2 separate regions of the Homo sapiens genome follow, and region 1 is linked to region 2. A link means that fine-mapping ties the variant in region 2 to the expression of a gene that starts in the linked region. Tissue or cell type: whole blood. Region 2 holds a variant in brackets; the other region holds the start of a gene. All regions are shown on one strand. Distances are between the middles of the regions. Region 1 holds the start of SHTN1 (shootin 1). Region 2 overlaps SHTN1 (shootin 1).

Region 1 (10,937 bases), 45 kb after region 2:
TATATACCAACATATATATATATGTGTAACCATCCATACCTGTATTAAGCTAAACATGAGTTCACACTGATGTCTCCAACATGAATCCAGTGCCAAAAGCATTTTCTTTTTAGAGAGATGGGGTCTCACTACATTGCCCAGGCTGGTATCAAACTCCTGGGCTCAAGGTATCCTCCTACCTTGGCCTCCCAAAGTGCTGGGATTATACGCGTGAGCCAACACAACCAGCCCAGAAGCATTATTTGTAATAGCAAAAACAAGGAAAGAAAGATAGAAATGTCCATCCAGAGGACATTAAATACATTGTGGTACGTCTGTACATTGGAACATTAATCAATTTTTAATGACAACGCTACATGTACTAATATAAAAAATTACATATTACATGATAAATACATATGCACATACAAACACAATTTCTGGAAGGAAAGAAAACAAAAGGTTAACAGTAGTTAACTTTGGGAAATGGGAATGGGGTCATAGCATGCATTGTCAATGTAGTGATTTCATCCTCAAGGAGATAAGAGAAAAGATCTTGGATATTACAATGGCTTATGGCCCTTCAAAGAGTCACAGTGCATAAAACGCCTAAAAAGTTTCCTTAGGAGAGTGATAATGAAATAAAGATTGAGAAACAATGGGTCAGATAGAATAGTTAATTGTACTTTTCACTTTACACACTTGTTTTCTATGAGCATGTGTTTATTTTTGCATTTATTTTAAAAAAGGTTCACAGCTGGGTGCGGTGGCTCACGCCTGTAATCCCAGCACTTTGGGAGGCCTAGGCGGGTGGATCACAAGGTCAGGAGTTCGAGACCAGCCTGACCAACATAGTGAAACCCCATCTCTACTAAAAATACAAAAATTAGCCGGGTGTGGTGGCACATGCCTGTAGTCCCAGCTACTTGGGAGGCTGAGGCGGAAGAATTGCTTGAACCTGGGAGGCGGAGGTTGCAGTGAGCCGAGACCACGCCATTGCACTCCAGCCTGGGTGACAGAGTGAGACTCTGTCTCAAATAAATAAATACATAAATAAATAAATAATATTAAGGAAATAGTGAAATTCTGACTAGAAGACATAGTTCCTTAGCCCACACTGCATGTTCATCTCATGGGGGGTTGCCAAACTGTTGTTCTTCAGCAACCACTCCCTAACTTTCAGAGGAAAATGCATTGTTGATAAGTACCTGGTGATTCAGATGCAGCTGGCCCTTGTACCACACTTTGAAAAATACTGATGTAAAACCAAGTTTGCACTTGAAAACAAGGCAACATTTAATTCCAAACAGCTTTCTACTGGCTGATCTCATATGCACCCAAGATTGTCAATGCTTCCGTTTTCCCAGACTGACGTGGTCATTGTGGTAGGCAATAGTTTCAGACTGTTTTGTCAAAATAATGCTCCAGTTATTTCCTGGCCTAGAAGCCAATGGAATACTGGATGCATCTTTTAATTACTAACTTGCTCTAAGAATAAGCTTGACTAGATTTCCATGTGAACTTAAGTATCATCTCAATAATCTTGGGGAAAACGATACTAACTCTAAAGGTGAAAAGAGGTTTAAAATTGCTTTAAAACCAATTACCTCACCATAGGAAATCCATTTTAAATACTGTTAGCCCAAAAATTGCCCATTATTGGGGTGGTGGTGGTTGTTTTCCTCTTATGTATGTCCTTATTATTAAATAGCCATCTCTCTTCAAAATTTCATCAACTTGGAAATGACATGGCATTACTACACTGAACAGTTTAGCAGACATGTGTTGTCTGTGTCTGCCCGGTCAGCATCCTCATGGTAGTGCACCCCATTCTGTTTTGGACTATTCCTCCAATCTTTGCAGGGGCTGCCAATTAAAGTATCCTGCCCTCCCGTGGCCAAAGTATTTGAATACATGAGATTGGCCAAACTAGGCCAATCAGACACTCCTCCTGGAATTTACATGCCTAGCACTATCTCTAGACCAGGAACTCCTCACCAGCAGAGGCAAGGTCTTATTCAGCTCTATCTCTCTGATGCCTAGCACAGTGCCTGGCTATGAATATTCAATGCATGTGGGCTGAATGAATTATACAGAAAATCATGCACCTTAAACAAATGCTGAACTAAGTCTATCATTTTCCCACTGAATTCCGGAGGGGGAGCAAATTGTATGATGTTTTGTAAGGGAAATATCCACTTTAGTAGCTAGGAAATATGCCTCGGAAATAGTATCCAAAGTTGCCATTTCTCGGTGCATTAAAGATGTCAATCAGTCCAATAAAATAAAGCCCCAAAAAAGACAAAAGGAGAATTACCTCATTACCTCAACATCTGCTTGAACATAAGCAATCACACACTGGCTAATTTTTTTTAAAGGGACATAATATAACTTTCTGGAAAGACATAATATAGCTAATTATACCATTCACTAGGAGGGAACATAAAATGTTTTGAAGTAATTCAGAAGTGGGTGTGATTTATAAGACATAGAGCTTAGGGAATGGTAAGTATAAATTAGAGATTGTTCATATTATGACAGACTCCGTCATTACATTTCACAACTTTTGTCAAAAGCAACCTTATTCACCACACCACTAAAGGCTTCACGTTAGGGAAGGCTGCTGTCAGCTTTGTGGTTTAGAGTAGACAGGAATCTCCTTTCTGAACACTCTCCTGGGGAACTGGTTCAAGTTTTAGACTTAAAACTTACTAAGGCAGGGCAAAATGAAGAGAGATTGTTTAATGGGTTCAAACATAGTTAGATACAAGGAGTAAGTTTTAACATTTTGATAGCAAAGTAGGGTGACTACAGTTAACAACAATGTATTATATATTTCAAAAGAGATAGAAGAGAGGACTTGAAATGTTCTCAACTCATTGAAATGATAAATACTGGAGGTAATGGATATCCCAAATACCCTGACTTGATCATTATGCATTCTAAGCATGTAACAAAATACCCCATGTCTTCTATAAATATGTACAAGTCTCATGTATCAGTTTAAAAAAAAATCACTAAGGAAGGACCCATATGATGAAACCTAAATGGCCAATGGCCATGTAAAAAGATTTCAAACATCACTAATAACCAGAGCAATGCAAATCTTAAAAGGTAACATTCTGCCCATTAGATTGGCAAAAATTCAAAAACTTGTCAGGCCATCAAATGAATAAAGATTGCTATTAGCCAGAGTTGACCAATGTGTGGGGAAATGGGTACTGCTGAAGGATATCTGAACTGGTATAATCATTTTGGAGGGCACTTTTGCAATGTCTAGCAAAAGTAAATGTCCGTGCCCTCTAATCCAACAATTCCATTTCTTCTAAGAATCTATCCTAGAATAAAAAAGTAATTGTACATTTATTCATATGATAACTTGAATAGTACCTGTCTTCTCTTCTAGAAAATTAATTTGGTGACAAGGACTGTGTAGTTCACTATTTACACCCCTAGTGCCTACCACATGGACCTGACATATGGTGGTACTTGATAAGTATTTGTTGAAGGAATGAATAAATATGTTTACTCAGCATTATTAAGGGAAAATAACATATTTGATAAATAGTGGTTCTTCTTGCTCACACTAAATAGGGGTAGTGGAATTATCACTCAGAATATTAACATTGTGAGTAAAAAGGTAGTAACAGGTAGTAAAAATTACTATTTTCAAAAATAAACCATGCAACCATCAGCTTACAAAATTGATCATAGTATGTACTGTTAAATGCTCAAAGACCCAGTTACCTGTTCTTCCAAATCCCTAGCTTCCCAATTAGTTCTACAGGTCAAACAGTAACTGAACACTTTTGAAGTAAATTGTTTCCACAGTCTGTGATCCAATGACAAGCAAACTACCTGGTTTTGAAATGTATAAAAATCACACTGTGGGCTGAAAAAATCCCAACACCTTTGTAACTAGACTCACTATCCCCAAAAGTGTACCTTTTAAGAAACACAACTTTGAATATCTAACTGTTCTATTACCTTTCATATGCACTTAATCAAGGAAATATATCCTCTAAAAATACCAATGCCAAGGATTTGTTTATTTTCCAATACAATGCAATAGGAGAAAGAGCCACAAATATAGAAATCCTTTTTGTCAGGCCTCAAACCCAACATAGGAATGGAGAATGTGTTCCGAAATCAAATATAAGCAATTTGCAGATTATCTACATTGTTAATCGACCCTTGATTATACAAGAAATGAAAGGGAAAATTTTTTTATGTTTATCATTATTCGAAAACTGACCAACCATAAGAAGATCTGATATCCACTGACAGATATTACCTATAATGAAAGCTCCACAAATCTAGAATATGAATCAAGTTTTAATGTTTTGGGTTGGGCGAAGGTGTATTAAATATAAAATACCAGTCAGTAGAATCCAGTCCCTCGCTAAAACACTTGAGAAACTTCAGATAAAGGCATTCTGTCCACCCACTAAATTCACTGATGCTTGTGACTTTATGACCTCAGGCTAATCTAGGATGCCAGGTAAAGGTGCTGGGAAGGCCAAAGAGACTAACATTTATCCAGCACTTTCTAGATGCTGGATATCACAGAAGAATGTGTTATGTCCATTTCAGAGGTTAAATAATTTCCCCAGGGTCACACAGTAAACAGTAATGTTGAAATTTGTTTGCCAGAGTGTGGCTTCAGAGGAATCCGGGAGCACTTCCCAACGGTGTCTGTGGTTTTACGCAACAACAGGTAAGAGTACTGGACAGGACCTCAGAAAGTCCTCCAGTTTCACCCTCGCCTTTAGTCAGGTCGGCCTTGATTGACCAGAAGATCCACGGAAGGAAAGAGACTCCTCCAAGTTCACAGAGCAGGTGAGCTGGGCCAAGAGAAGTGAAAGAGCTGCAACTAAATACCAGGTTTTGCCACAGAGCAGGGATCCTTCCATTACATGGTCTTGTCAGCAAGACATTCAGAAAAGTACATGTTCCTACACATTTTTACTTCCTTTAAATCTGTATGGTTCCTCCCTTTATTTCTTTATTATTTATTATTATTATTTTTTTTTGGAGATGGAGTTTCGTTCTTGTTGCCCAGGCTGGAGTGCAACGGCGCCATCTTGGCTCACCGCAACCTCCGCCTCCTGGCGATTCTCCTGCCTCAGCCTCCCGGGTAGCTGGGATTACAGGCATGCACCACCACGCCCGGCTAATTTTGTATTTTTAGTAGAGATAGGGGTTCTCCATGTTGGTTAGGCTGGTCTCGAACTCCTGACCTTAGGTGATCCACCTGCCTCGGCCTCCCAAATTGCTGAGATTACAGGCGTGAGCCACCGCACCCGGCTGGTTCCTCCCTGTCTTGACCCACATTCGCAGACCACCCTTTGGTCAGGGTAATAATGATAAGTGTTTAAATGTGATAGGTTAGCATTTGGTTGTTGATCTGGTTTGGTTCAGAAGTGTGGTAACTGATGAAAAAAATGATTGACTGAAGCAGGTCTTTATTAAAGGATAATCCCCAGTTACCAAGCAGTACAGAAATGCGTGCGCATGGCCTGGCTCTCCTTCGCCCAGCGTCAACCCTGTTAATTCTGAAAGCTCAACACTGGCAGGATGTTGACCTTGCTGACTAATAAACTGCTAAAATTGAGAAGTGATTAAAAAAAAAATTATGGCCTGAAAATCCCAGCTGGGCAAGGAAAGAGGAACTAGACCGAATCCAAACGAAAAGCTGGGAAGGGTGTGAAACAGCCCTACAGGCCACCCAGCGCCAACAAATGTGTAAGGGTGGGGCCAAGCTAGCTGAGCCGCCCAAAGCAGCCAAAATATCCTGCCCCACCCGCTTCTCCGGCAAGGAAGGTGGCACTGTGCAACCTCGTCCGCACTGAATCCTCGTCCCTTCCCCCAGCCCCCGATCGCCAGCAAACGCAACCAGCGGGCAGCGGGTCTCGAGCTGCGGGGCCTGACTAGCCCCGACACTCCGCGTTATCCTCGGTCCAGAGCTTTCCCAGGCGCGCCGGCCACGGAGGACGCTTCTCTGCGGGTGACGGAGCTACTGCGGTGACCACGGCGGCCGCCACGTCTCCCGCCCGGCTTCCAACTGCCCTGGCCCCAGCGCCCTGGGGCCGTCCCCGCCCACGGGCCGCGGCTGCCCACACCTGGCGCCCGCGTGCTGCCTACCTTGCTCCTTCAGACTGGTAATGAGCTGCAGCTGCTTCTCTTCGTCCGAGCTGTTCATTTTGGCGGGTGGGGCCGGGAATAAAAGGGAAAGAGGGAGCGGCGCGGGGCACACAGGAGGAGGGGGAAGAAAAAGCAAGATGCCGGTGGCTTGCGGCTCCACTACCCGGAAGTTGGATCCGCTCCCGCTCCTCCTCCTCCTGGCGCGGAGCGCGCGAGTGAGATCATCCCCACGCACCTACTCGGCGGCTGCGGCCGCTTCACCTGCAGGCGGGGCGGGGCGGGCCCAGCAGTCCCGTTCAGGGGGTGGAGGAACGAGGGCGGGTCGGCAGCCGCTATGCCAGCCTGTGGCTGCCGGCGCGGCAGGACGCGCTGGTGGGAGGGGGGGCGGCCCTGCGTGGGGTCGCTCCGCACCCTTTTCTCCGCCTCCACCTCCCGGACTCAGGGACGCGAGTTCAGAGAAAACCGGCTGTGGGTTCGCAGCGTGTGTGGGAACTCCACTTTGGACGCTTCCCGGGGGTCGCTCCCAAAGAACCACAGAGGTAGAGCGGGACGCAATGAGCCATGAACGCCTGGGCTTCTTCCCTAGTTTTCCCGCAGTAGACTCTGGGGGCGCGGTTGCAAAACCTAGCTGCCCACAGGGGCGGGCCCAGGGTGGTACATTTTGCACCTTGAAGAGGAGACAAGGATCGAATCAGGCCGCCCAGCTACTTAAATGACCATGCCGTGAGTGAAGGAGGGCCCTGGCTAGCTTTCCCCCATCGCACCAGGTTTGCCAGGTGGTCAGAACGTGGACCCTGCTGCACGTGGATGGTGGGGCCTGGAGGGCCCTTGCAGATCATCTGGTTGGTGGCGGGATGACCTTCCCTTTAGAGAGGGTGCCACTGCAGTCCGAATGCCGAAGGTCACGCAGCCCCCGGGCAGCAGAGGCTGGCAGTTAAGCCAAGCGTTTGTCCCAGTTCACTGCCCTCTGAACTATTTGAACTCATGTCTGTGTTAGACCATGCCCAGGAGAGAAGTGGCAGGTCTGCATTGTTTCAAAGGTGCTTCTCCCCAACCCCTAGTTGCGAGCTAACCTTTGGTCAAGTCTCCTGCATCTTTGAACTTCATCTGAAGAATAGGAAGAATAGTGATACCTACTCTCAAGGAAGAGTTGTAAGGATTTAATAGAGGAAGATTAACAAAACACCAAGTCCAGAATTTATAATGCAGTTTTTTTTTGTTTTTTTTTTGTTTTTTTGTTTTTAATAAAGATTACAGGTCTGTGGCCGGGCACAGTGGCTCACGCCTGTAATCCCAGCACTTTGGGAGGCCAAGGCGGGCAGATCACGAGGTCAGGAGATCGAGACCATCCTGGCTAACACGGTGAAACCCCGTCTCTACTAAAAATACAAAAAATTAGCCGGGCGTGGTGGCAGGCGCCTGTAGTCCCACCTACTCGGGAAGCTGAGGCAGGAGAATGGCGTGAACCCGGGAGGCGGAGCTTGCAGTGAGCCGAGATCGCGCCACTGCACTCCAGCCTGGGTGACAGAGTGAGACTCCGTCTCAAAAAAAAAAAAAAAAAAAAATTACAGGTCTGTGAGAAAGGGGTTGTGGTTGCTGACTATAAGCTGAAGGTTGCAGTTCTTTTACACTGATCATTAAGCATGGGAGATAAGTCCAAACTGAATTAGACTTATTGCACAGCTTGGTTTTTCTCACTACCTCTAAGCTCTTAGTTTGGGTACAGCAACAGCACAGTGCTGCTCATTCCTCAATTGCTGTTTTATGGAAGTGCCCAGCTCCATTTCTTGTGTTCATTTCTCCATGATAGTTGTAGAGTGAGGTTGAGATATGGGTAAATCCTGTAACTAGTGTCTTTCTGATACTCACTACATGCTAACTAAAATTTTGAAAAAAAAAATGGTAGCACTGCTTTCTCTTTCTCTAAAATGGCAATATAGTACTTTAGCATGAGTGATTTAGGGGTAGAATGATCTAAAAGGGCAGCATAGTATTTTTTAATACAGTGTATTAAAATGTTTAAAGTTTAAAAATAATTTTGATATGGGATTGTATTATTCAGCCCTTTCCCTAGGTATGCGTAAGATAATTCAAGATAGTTGCAGATAGCTGCCATGAAGATCCCCAGGAGATAATAATAAAAAAATCCGGGAGATTTTAATGAAAAATAATGGACATTTAGCTTTTGTCCAGCAGTTGGGAAACCTGTTAAACCTGATGAGTCATCCTGACTCATTCTCTCTCACTCTACCAAATACAAGCAGAGTGCCCATTAAATATTTGGCTTAGTTCACAAAGTTCCATTTTTTTTTAATGGCTGATTTGTCTACTCCAATTATACAGTAGTTAGATAGTATTTCTGGAGTTTAAGAATGAGTTAATTATCAAATCTATAATCAAACTTTTGGTTCCATACTAAATCTGCGGCCTCTTGCAATTAATCCCATTTATCCTCCTTAAAATTAGAAAAGGCTCCTGAGCTGAGATTCTGCCACTGCACTGCAGCCTGGGTGACAGAGTGAGACTCCATCTCAAAAAAAAAAAAAAAAAAAAAAAAAACTCCTGAAATACAATATGGCATTCACTTGAGGACATGGTATGAATTATTAGGAGGGCTATTAGAGTCCTTATTGGGATTCAGTTCTCCCATTACACTATTGTTTATTTATATGATATGAATATTGATGGAAAGGATAGAAGTGATAAATTAGTTTTTGTTCCGTTTAATAATATACAGAGTGATGGCTATGGGAGGCCGAGGCGGGCAGATCACGAGGTCAGGAGATTGAGACCATCCTGGCTAACACGGTGAAACCCTGTCTCTACTAAAAATAAAAAAAGCTGGGTGTGGTGGCGGGCACCTGTAGTCCCAGCTACTCGGGAGGCTGAGGCAGGAGAATCACTTGAACCCGAGAGGCGAAGGTTGCAGTGAGCCGAGATCATGCCACTGCACTCCAGCCTGGGTGACAGAGCGAGACTCCATCTCAATAATAATAATATACATAGTGATTTATGTTGCAGGCATCACGTTGGAGTTACTATTGACCTCCAAATAACAGGTCATTTAAAACCCTTAAAAATGTGTGTGTTTACATATATATATACAAATATATACATAGAGATAAAGGACAGACTTTTAAAAAATGAATTGGAAGAATATGTGCCAAACTCAGGATAATGGCTGTCTCTAGGGATAGAAAGTAGGGGAACAGGACCAAGGTGTGGGGGTTGGAGTGTGAAAGTGCAGTGGTCAAGAAGGAGTTTCTCTTTAATCTTTATTTAATTTTTCAGGTAATTAAAGTAAAATCACATATGTCATCTTTTGAGGTATACAGATAAATAAGATTGAAATACAATGAGGAGAAGAAGGTTCACTGTCTTTGATCCACTAATTCTATATCAGGGAATCTATCCTAAAAGGCTTATGTACAGAGCTATTTAATGTAATGTTAATTATCATATGAAAATGGCAATATTGGAATATTATTTGGTAATAAAAATAAAGTACTGATATATGGTACAACACAGATGAAATTTGAAAACATTATACTCAGTGAAAACTTGATCAGAAAAGACCAGATATTGTATGATTGCACTTGTATAAAATGATCACAACAGGCAAATCCATAGAGGGAGAAAGTTGATTGGTGAGTATCTACTGAGGTGGGGTGAAAGTAGGGGAGGTCTGGGAGAAAACAGGGAATGGCTGCTGATAGGTGTGTGGTTAATTGTTGGGGTAATACAAATTTTCTAAAATTAATTGTGGTAATGGTTGTACAATTCTCTGAATATACTCAAAACTATAGAATTGGCCGGGCGCTGTGGCTCACGCCTGTAATCCCAGTACTCTGGGAGGCCAGGGCGGGTGGATCACCGGAGGTCAGGAGTTTGAGACCAGCCTGACCAATATGAAGAAACCCAATCTCTATTAAAAATATAAAAAATAAGCTGGGCGTGGTGGCACATGCCTGTAATCCCAGCTACTCAGGAGGCTGAGGCAGGAGAATCACTTGAACTCAGGAGGAGGAGGTTGCAATGAGCCGAGATCGTGCCATTGCACTCCAGCCTGGGCAACAAGAGCAAAATTCTGTCTCAAAAAAAAGAAAAGAAAAGAAAATATCAACCAAATATGCACAAAAGGAAAGGAGAAAGAAGTCAAAATGATTACCAAAAACATACACATTTTTTTAAAAACTAAGTATAAAATAAGGCAATAATGAAGCAAATGAAGAGCAAAAGAGCTATAAGACATATAGATAATACATAGCAAAATTGCAGAAATAAGTCATTTCTTATTAACTGTAACTTTAAATGAAGATGGCTTAAACTCTCCAAAAGGCAAACACTGGCAGGATGCAAAAAAAAGTATGATCTAACTATATGATGTCTACAAAATATTTATTTTAGATCCAAAGACAACAATAGATTTAAAGCAAAATGGTAGGAAAAAATTTAATTAGTAACCAAAAGAGAGTTGGGGTGGTTATATTAATATCAGACAAAACAGACTTTAAGTCAAAAACTGTTACAATAAACAAAAGTCTATATTCACAAAAGGGTTGATTCGGTAAGAATATATAATTACTATAAACATATATACAAGCTGGGCACGGTGGCTCAAGCCCGTAATCCCAGCACTTTGGGAGGCCGAGACGGGCAGATCACGAGGTCAGGAGATTGAGACCATCCTGGCTAACACTGTGAAACCCCGTCTCTACTAAAAATACAAAAAATTAGCCGGGCGTGGTGGCGGGCGCCTGTAGTCCCAGCTACTGGGAGGCTGAGGCAGGAGAATGGCATGAACCCGGAAGGCG
Region 2 (10,937 bases):
TCTCTTCAGTTATTACATCTGGTCCCAGCTTGGCCATGTACAACATGCTGATTCTTTTCAACGTTTTATTTTCTTTATTTAGCTAAGACAAAATATAAAAACAGTTATTTTAAAAGCAGCCAAATGAGTATCTTGGATTTTTAAACAATAGACAAATTAAGTATATTTTTGTCTTACATATTCATCAACACTCACAGCAGGACATAACAATTAGTGGATTCATTAAATAAGGTTTTATATTAAATTTATTTCTTTAACCAAGATCTGATGTCTGGATTACAGCCAGCAGCAAGTGGAAATGCTAGTTGTAACTGATGAGAAATATAAGGAACTAAGATAAAACACCAGTACAGATTAAATAAAATTCTGATTTATAGTCATTAATAGTCTTAAAAAAGGCACTTTATTTCAAGCAAATCTTCTGCGTGCTGTGGTGCTGAGAACACCTTTTAAATGTCTGTTTGCCTAACATCTCTCTTTTCTGGACATTACCACTTTCCATTGTTCCACATGATTTCAATGGGAGTGCCATGCTCTCCCAAGCACACCCCATCCCTTTGGCCACAGCGAATTAGTCCAGGGATTAAACACATGACCCAAGTGTGACCAGTCAGATCCCCTCGCTAGAAATTTGGAGGCTGGAACAGAGCAATGAGTTTCTTTCCATGTGCCTGGACAGGAGCTGCTGGTAACCACATTCCACTATAGGATCAAGGAAAAGAGGAAGGTAGTTTTTAGAAAAGCTAAAACTGAAGCTGATGTGTAGAGAAAGGAAGAGAAAAGCAACAGAGAAAGGGTTTCCCACCAGACTCAAGCCCCAGACTCCAGTCCATTCCTAAACTGCTCCTGTCTCAGAGATTCTATGGAAGTCTCTGATATTTCTAACAGATCCCACATCATTTTCTTTTCTTGTTTAAACTAGTTCAAGATGTTGTTTCTACTATCTCTATTAAAAGAGTTCTACTTCACAGCAAAAAAAAAAAAAAAAAAAAGGAATCCTACTTTGTTAATGTATTTTTTATTCCCGGACAGGGAAATGAGTTGGTTTTTTAACTTCAGTTATTCAACTATTATCACCTTCTTTAGCTAATGTGTTTATGTACAAGAAAATTTAGGACAAAGCACACACAAAGACTAAGGATGTTCCAATGTCCACAGAAGTACAATATGGTTTTGCTCATATTTTCTCTTCCCAAGACTAAAAAATAAACAGTTTTCCTTAATTTGCGCACATCAAAGTAATCAGTAGATTATTTTCCCTACTATAAAATGTAAGTTATAGAAATGCAAATACATTTCCTTTACTAGAGCCCTTGACCAGGAAGACATGCTCTGAATTTAATAATTGATATTGGAAACAAATGAACATAGTTCATTGGAAAGATAACTACCTTTCCTCACTGTAAACCTGACACTAGAATAAGATATTTAGCATAGCACTGGTCTGACTTTGCTCTTTCATTTGTGATCATAATTAGGGTTCCTCAGGGTTTCTCATAGAGAAAGCCCAGCCCACTTTAATCTGGGAGATCTGATTTCTACCCCAATAATATGGAACCTAAAGTGGCATGGTCTGGAGCACGAGAGGTTTGTCTGACCTCTTTGGAGAATCAGGAAGAATCTCTAAGAAATGGTTATGAACTCTTCCATGGATTCTTCCTGGAAGACTGGCAAGCTCTATTCAGGAAATCAGACACAACCCTTTATCCTCAGTCCCAGTCTCCAACTCTAGCTTCTGTCTGCACACATTACATTAGGAGATCAAGATAAAAGATGAGGCCCATCATTTCCCAACACCTCTTCCTTAAGTTGGAAAATTCAGATAAAAACTGTTGTGGGTTCTTTAAACCATGAATGCTACAGCATGGCACACGAAGCTCAAGGACCCTCACTTGTCAATTCTCAAACTATCCCATCTTTTAGGAATGTCAGAAGAAAACATCAATTTAAGGAAAAAGTGAAGACATTTAAGACTTAATTTCTGGTTCTGTATCCTAATATTTAAACTAATGGTTCTCAACTCTGGCCATCAGAATCTCTGGAGAGCTTTTTAAAAACCTCAATGCTTAGGCGCTATGCCATACCCAAATCTCTGGCAGTGAAGCCCAGCATAGCCCTTTTTCAGTTTCCCAGGTGATTCTAATGTACATCAACACTAAGAATCATTGATGTAAAGAAACGCATTGCTTTAGTATACAACCCAGCTCTGCAATAAAATTCCATCTCTGCCTCTACAACTAACCTAATCCTTATGTTTCAGTTTTCTCATCAGTAAACTAAGAATTAAGATAGTCTGTATCCCACAATATGATGACTAAATGAGACATTATATATAAAGTATTTAATATAGTAACTGCCACACAGTAAAACTTCAGTGTTAGTTATTCATAGTAAGAAGAGGTTTAGTTTGTGTCTAATTATCCTTTGGAAATCATTTATCAGCTAGTTTTCTTCAAAGTATTCATTTAGGCATTTTCTCCTTCCTCCAGGATACTCAAGAAACTACTAGTTTCTGTCATCTAGTGCTTAATATATTACTTCTTAGACAACCACTACAATAATACCTTAGCAACATCATAGCTAACAGTTCTGCCCTCAAAAGGGTTTAATGCCCCTATCAAACCAGGCACCAAAATCCACCAGTTTGTCTGCAATACAATTACTCTACTTAACAAAGTCACCAGCTCAAGAAAAAAAAGCCAATCAGAAAATTTCATAATCCTTCTCTGAAACCCCATTTTCGCATTTTGAAAGAAGAAATGTAAGATTTATATATATGAGGGTTTTTTTTGTTTTGTTTTTTTGGAGATGGGTTCTTGCTCTGTCACCCAGGTTAGAGTGCAGTGGTATGATCATAGCTCACCACAGCCTCAAAGTCTCAAACTCCTGAGCTCAAGTGACCCTCCCACCTTGTCCTTCCAAAGCACTGGGATTACAGGAGTGAGCCACCACACCCGGCCTAGACATGAGGTCTTATGTGCATACTATTTGAACATTTTTGAGAATTCTGAATTCACAAATTTTGGCTAAGTAATTTCATTGTAGCTATTCATCAAGCTATAGGTTAATTGCATGCTACTTGTTGTTTGGAACCCCTCTATGTCTAAGGCAAAAATATATCTTTTTACTTTTTTTTTTTTTTTTTTGAGATGGAGTCTCTCTGTCACCAGGTTGGAGTAGAGCTGCGTGATTTCAGCTCACTGCAACCTCTGACTCCCTGGTTCAAGCGATTCTCCTGCCTCAGCCTCCCGAGTAACTGCGATTACAGGCACACACCACCACGCCCAGCTAAGCTTTGCATTTTTAGTAGAGACGGGGTTTCACCATGTTTGCCAGGATGGTCTCAATCTCCTGACCTCAGGTGATCTGCCCACCTCAGCCTCCCAAAGTGCTGGGATTACAGGCGTGAGCCACCGTGCCCAGCCAAAAATATATCTTTTATAACCCTACAGTAACAGAACCTACTATTATATTCAAATGTAAATAGGGTTTTTATATTGTCCAGTTTAGTGGCTATTTAAAGGTACAAAACAAGCAAGTTTAATGGCTTTGGATCATATGACTTAAATAACTGGTCCACATTTATCAGTTTAATCTACACATTTTAGCAAAGCAAAGTATCCATACTTGCTTCTAAGAAAATATGAGGAACTGGGCGCAGTGGCTCACGCCTGTAATCCCAGCACTTTGGGAGGCTAAGGCGGGCAGGTCACCTGAGGTCAGGAGTTTGAGACCAGCCTGGTCAACACAGTGAAACACTGTCTCTACTAAAAACACAGAAATTAACTGGGTGTGGTGGCACATGCCTGTAATCCCAGCTACTCGGGAGACTGAGGCAGGAGAATTGCTTGAATCTGGGAGGTGGAGGTTGCAGTGAGCCAAGATGGCATCACGGCACTCCAGCCTGGACAACAGAGCAGGACTCCATTTCAAAAAGAAAAAAAAGAAAATTACGAGGTCAAGCTGCATCATCAGAATTAAACATTCCATTTGTCATTAATTTGATGGCAAAAATTTAGAAAAATAAGAATTTATAGAAACTTTGCTCTCAGGAAAAAAAATGAGCATTTTTGAAAGCCTCCTTTCAAAAATGACAATTGATACTTAAATCAGAATGAAGTCACACATATAATGAAGTTTCCACATTTTGCATTCAAAGCAGTCTTTCACAACAAACAAGCACATTTATAGTATTTGATTTAATCCATTTTTTAAATTTTTTTCTAGGCCCCATGAGTTCATACTATATCTTCAAAAATAAACTATATGTTCATTTTAAAAAAGGGTTTTTAAAGAACAGGCAACAAACAGTGTTAGGTAAGGATCCTATTATTAAGACTTAATTGTAAAAATGAGCTTAGAGATTAGGTAACACTGGTTCGTAACGAGCAATGAATATAACAGTCACCAGGCAGCTTTTCTACATGCACATGCCTGGGCCACACATCTAGAGCCAATGGATCTGGGGTATTATGATGAAGCCAACCATGGTCCATCCTGGCATTTAGAGCAAGACAACTGTAGCTCAGAGAGGTGAGTTCTCTTGCCCAAAAACACCTATTAAATAAAA[G/C]GGGAGACAGAATAAAGTAATTTTTTAAAAGGGGCCATATGCAAATAAATTATTAACTCCAGTCCTAACTCTAGTCCATCATGTCATTTAAGATGAGATACTACACTCCAGAGAACAAAATTAACTTGTCCAAAATCACATATGCCCAAAATTACATAACCAGGAACAAAACCTGTATATACTGTCCCACAAACCAGTGCCTTCCATAAACTCTGCCAATCCTGAAAGGTAGCCAGTATCCTCACTCTGGATGTGCTATGACAACAGGAATACTTGTTAATAACAAGAAAAAATAGAGAGTATATCCTTAGACACTAGAAGATTCAGAGCAGCTAGCAGGCTCCAAATGTACTTTTTCTCTACTTATTCCAAAGAAAGAAATTCAAAAATGAAAATAGAATTCACACAACATTACGGACTAGTGAACTCTAGGAATGTGCCGCAGAGTAAAAATGATGTGAGAATACCCATGTTATCATTTTTTAAAAAGTGTTTTTAAAGTGTATTGCTGTGTATTCTTCAGATGAATAACAGGAGAGAAGTTACATACCCAAATTTATATTCTTAGTTAGGTCCTGATTAAATATCTTATGAATTCTAATGTAGTGTTGTTATGCAAACAATTAAGCAAATACCTCTAGGAAGCACACTGTTAATGCATACAAATTACATTTATTTATGTATTTATTGAGAGTAGGATTTCAGTCACATCCAAAGAAATTTTCGGAGGTGGGTGATGGAGGGGAGGGAAAAGAAACACAACCAGTATTACTAATGAAATTTGGTTGAAAATTGCTGTAATCCACTTTCTGATGAAGTGGTTCAGATGCATTTTACCCAACCCAAAATACATAAGACAGAGATAAAAAAAACATTCTTTAATAATAATGTACTTCTGATGAGATAGAATGTAGAAAATTACACACTTGGTAAATTCATCAGCAAGAGGCAATCAGTGGAACACTGGAGGTCACCTTCAGCATGCCCTCGCTTTGCTTTCATAAATAATCACCTGAAATGCACGGCTTCAGGGTGACTTTTTCATCTGATTCAAATATGAGACATTCACTGCTCTTTTATGTCACACCAGGTTAGTTTTAAACTTGGTTAGCATTTTAACCAAATGCATGGACATTTGCAAAGTCCCCTTTAACACTACTCTGGGACCATTTTTTCCACATTTTCACAGGCAAAAAGCACAAATGCTGAAATACTCACATACAAATGCTCCTTTTACAATTTGGAATAACCTTTGCATTAAGGTGAATATTTACATAATCATATTCCAGGATTCTGAGGCCTTTTAACATTTCCCTCATCATCAGAGTAGATAATCGATTAGAGAAGTAGAAAAGCAAAACCAGATAGAAGCCACTGCTTAGAAAAGCAAGTTGAAATTTAAAAGCTCAGGTAAAATTCCTTCATTTGAAGTCTCACCTTTGTTGCCAAAGCTTCAGCACTTTCTCGACAAGTCTTCTCTATTTCAAGATGGTTCTGCATGAAATTAACTTCCTCTATGACCATGTGAGAAACTAGGAATGAGGGGGAAAAAAAATCTCAGCATTCAAAGATTAGTCAGCTATTCCAGGAGCCCACGCATCGTCCCATGATTAAGAATACTTCAATTCTTTGGCTAGCCAGACCTTTAGCTATCACTGAAAAAAGGTTTTTGAGAAGCTGCCCTGATTAAATCTGAGCTAATATTTGAATGTAGAAAGAAACAAGAACACAACAAAATACATTCATTTCACATACATACATTTTATTATGTACATTTTAAGAGCGCTATTTAGATTTTTTTACAAGTCTATTTTCTATGCAACTATATATGTATCCATAGACATATGTGCTAGTTTAAACAAAAGAATATTTCATAAATAAAGAGGAGTGACAGCATGACTTCTTTTTCTCAGCAGTGTATAACACATGGCTCTAATAAGAAAAATTAACAAAAAATAAAAGAAAAATAAATCTTAAATTGATCTTATGACTGGAGTAGTGATGTGGCGACTTGGCTAAGTACTGCAACATTTGTCTCTATTAGCTACAAAGTAGTTACTGCTATTTCATAAGTAACTCTCAGGCAGAAAAGTATAGCAGTAAGATTTATGTACTATATGGTTATAAAGCAGATGCTAATAAATTACTTCCTGAATCATAGGCTATCAGAAGCATTAGAAGAAAAATAAAATTTTACTTGATATGTCACCAATGCTCGAAAAATTGTATTTTTTAGATTTTTTGACAGCTGGTGCATGTAAATTGAGATTTACAGGTATAAAGTGATTTAGAACTTGAGTTATATTTTGAAGATCAAGAAAGAAAAATGCCAATTCCTTCCACCCATATTTCTAGTTAAATGAAAACTCTCAGAATCTCAACCCTAAATGTAGACATTACTTATTGCTATTTGTTTGGCTTAAAAAAAAAAAAATTAAAGGACACCCAAATGTGAAACCCAACAAAGTTAGGCAAAAAGCACTGGGCTCACATAACACAAAGAGAGATTACTTTTGCTTCATTTAAGCTTAATTAACCTGCAATTATGATTAAACTCAGGGGAAAAAATTTCTCTCCAAATTAAATACAAAAATGTATTACTTCCTAAGTCTGTCCAAAGTTCTTATTATGTTAATATTCAAATTCATAAAGCAGCACTAAATGGCCAGAAACATCTCTAACCTTGACATTTTTTCAGGGGTAATAATAATCTGCAGCAAATGCAGGCCAACCAAAAACCACTTAACTAATTAGTAGTTGCAGTCACCGAGAAAAACATGAATCAACACTGTTATTACAAGTGGCACATTTGAGTGGCATCTAATTATGACTTGATGAGCACGATACTTGCATTATCAACATTACTACTGCATCCCATCAGGGCCTAAAAGCTGCTGATGGCATTGACTTCGAGAAACTCCCACTCAATGGTACAGCAGCACCCAACAATCGGCTTGGCAGGGGCCCCCCTCACTAAATGACACGTTAAGCGTAATTACTGGTAGACATTGTAAATAAACAGGATTGGAAGTGAAAATTGTACCAAGTGCATAAGACACAATCTGACACATTGGAAGTGGCAGCCTTAATTGAGAGTTTCTTTGACTGCTCAAGATCATTTCAACTGCATTTCTCAGAGGACAGTGATTATAACTGTGGAGACAGACGGCATAATGGTATCAGCACTGCTGACAGAGCAGTGAATTAAATTGTATCTGCTGTTGTGTGAAAGCCTTGATGAGAGGTACAGATGCCTTAGTGGTCTTATCATTATAACACAATGGTCATGTTGTCATCAACCTTTCTGGCTCCAATTGAAAAGAAATGATTGTGTGTTGAAGCTCCCCCCCCCTTCCACATCACCCCCCTTCTTCTCTTCTATCTCTTGTTCTGAATAGAACCAATTTTCAGAGAGCTATGAAATCACGCAATAGGTCCTAAAATGCAGCTGCTTGGCATACAAACGGGTCCCCATTAAACTGGAATCACACACAATATGTGTTTATGCCAGAAGAACAAATAGAAGCTGAACACAGGCCAAGTTTATTCACACACACAAAGCCCATGTAGCTCTTCATCAATATAATTGCCTTTTATATTGTAGTTTAAATAATAGGCTCTATTATTTCCTTAAAATCCTAATATTCCTGGCATTTTATCACTATGTTTACAAGGTAGGTTCTTCAAAAATGTGAAGGAAAGAGAAAAGAAACCTATACAATTTTTACAACATCAAATATTACTTTGAATTTTTAGCCTTAACTACTTGACATCTTCTGCCACAATCTGGTATTTCCACTATCATAACAAAAACATAAACACTCTGCATTTTTCATAGGAATCTTACTTTTTATTCAATAACATTCTTGCTCTTGAAAGAGTAAGAAAATTCATTCCACAGTAGTGAGGTTTAGGCCTAGCAAATAGGAAACAAAACAAAACAAAAAAAACATTTATTTTCTGAACATTTTGTAAAAAGGTGCCCTGTGATTCAACTTGATAAACATAGCTGGGTAGTCCTTGCTCACATTTTCTCCAGTTCTGATTTGGTACACTCCATCTGGTGGGGTTTTTATTTCTTCTCAAAGAGAGAACAGTAGACATTTTTTTAAATTGCGCATTAATTTTTAGTTTAAGAAATTATTCCAGTGCTAAACTGGTAGCATAACAACCTACTTACCAATGTTCTAGGTTCATATGGGAAGAGTATATTTCAAAGGGTGATTATATCTTTAAAAAGCATGACCCCATTTCCAAAACCAAAAGTCAAGTCACATGACGCAAAACAGAAATACTTTTAATATGTAAATTTATTTGCACATTTTGAATAATAAAAGTTTTTTTTTTTTTTTTTTTTTTTTTTTTTTTTTTTTTTTTTTTTTTTTTTTTTTGAGACGGAGTCTCGCTCTGTGGCCCAGGCTGGAGTGCAGTGGCGCAATCTCGGCTCACTGCAAGCTCCGCCTCCCGGGTTCACGCCATTCTCCTGCCTCAGCCTCCCGAGTAGCTGGGACTACAGGCGCCCGCCATCACGCCCGGCTAATTTTTTTGTATTTTTAGTAGAGACGGGGTTTCACCGTGTTAGCCAGGATGGTCTCGATCTCCTGACCTCGTGATCCGCCCGCCTCGGCCTCCCAAAGTGCTGGGATTACAAGCGTGAGCCACCGCGCCCGGCCATAATAAAAGTTTTTTAAACGTTTAGCTATTCATGTAATAATTTGCCCTATGGTTCTGAATTGGGCTTGTCTCAGGATATCCACAATCCATGGCCACTGTACTTGTCATATTTGCATATTTGGATGACATGAGGTTTAAAAAAGAAAAAAGATGAACTTTTAATAAAGTGTCCGTAATACTGCAGTTATGTTAAAAAGAAAAGACTACTAATCTTTTAGAAATATATACTGAAATATTTCCAGGCAGTAAACAGTAAAATGATATGATGACTGGAATTAGTTCCAAAGCAATCTGAGGTCAGTGACAGTGGGTGTATGGGTGTACAGTTGGAAGACTGGCTGTGAGTTGGCAACTGTTGCAGCCAGAAAACTGGAACATGGGGATTCGTTAAATTATTTTCCCGCCTTTGCATCACTTTGAAATTTTTCATAGTAAAAAAATTTTAATGACCCTGAGAACATAGAAGTATAACATAAAAGTACATCAAGTATTGTTTCTATTAGTCTACTTGAATTAGCGAAGTTTGTCTCTCTTCAACTATGACTTCAAAGCAGTCTTACATAAATGGCAGTGTAGTACACATCACATTGTAGGGTAACTGTTTTTTTTTTTTTTTACTTGTTTTTATCTTCTACTCACTATGAACATTAGAGCAGGGATTTTGTTTTACATGTCTGATTCTCTTGCACCTAGCACAATGCTACATGCAAAGCAGGTGCTCGTGTTAGTGTCTATTTGAAGGACTGAAGGCCTAAGCTCGCCTGTGAACAGCCTTTTATGAGAATGTTCTCTGTAGTATAGAATTGCTTAGGAAACAACTACCATCGCCATTTGTTGAGCCTGACTATGTGTCCAGCCTTGTGCTAAACTCTTTACATGTGTTCCCTCCTTCACAAAGCCTCACAACAATCCTATAACGTAGGGATCATCACAGCAATTTTATATTTGAGAACACGGAGGCCCAGAGAAGTTAAATAACATATTCCAAATCACAGAGTTCTAACTGGTAAAACCCAGTTAAAACCATTTCTAGGTGACTCTACTTTTCTATAGTCCTTTCTAATTCATTATACAAGGTGTCACCACCAATGATGTTGCTTCTAGAGCAAATCTCTCCCAACTCTAACTCCCAGCGATATTTAGATGTAGAATATCTCTAAAGCATATGTGGTGAACATATCACAAATTCTTCTTCAACATCACACTACTTCAAAAGTTTTCCATGTGGTAAGGAAAGAGCCATGAAAGTTGGCATATATGTAGGAAAATCGGTGTGTCCTTAAAACAGATTAATGGATCTAATATTGTGGCTGAAAAGACATGAAAGGGGCTGGGCGCGGTGGCTCATGCCTGTAATCCCAGCACTTTGGGAGGCCAAGGCAGGCAGATCACCTGAGGTCAGGAGTTCGAGACCAGCCCGGCCAACATGGTGAAACCCTGTCTATACTAAAAATACAAAGTTAGCTGCCTGTAATCCCAGCTACTTGGGAGGCTGAGGCAGGAGAATCACTTGAACCCAGGAGGCGGAGGTTGCAGTGGGCCAAGAACACGCCACTGTACTCCAGCCTGGGCAAAAAGAGCAAAACTCCATCTCAAAAATAAATAAATAAATAAATAAAAAGATATGAAAGGTCTTTAGTTACCTTTCACAGGAATCCGGTCTAGGGAATGCAGCTTTGCTATGTAGTGGTGT

Evidence for each region.
Region 1: it holds the start of SHTN1, and the variant in region 2 is fine-mapped to the expression of SHTN1 in whole blood (INTERVAL, PIP above 0.99).

What each region holds. Positions count from the first base shown.
Region 1 is chr10:116,998,899-117,009,835 of GRCh38, forward strand. SHTN1 (shootin 1) reads right to left here and starts at 6,289. Exons shown (of 17, transcript NM_001127211.3): 1 at 6,124-6,289. The coding sequence starts at 6,181. RefSeq lists an enhancer at 5,372-6,065 and silencers at 5,880-6,174, 6,046-6,155, 6,386-6,465.
Region 2 is chr10:116,954,129-116,965,065 of GRCh38, forward strand. SHTN1 (shootin 1) reads right to left here. Exons shown (of 17, transcript NM_001127211.3): 4 at 6,008-6,102; 5 at 1-82. Among named protein-coding and RNA genes, the nearest start is that of SHTN1, 46 kb to the right of the region's middle. The variant G/C (reference allele first, on the strand shown) is at 4,571.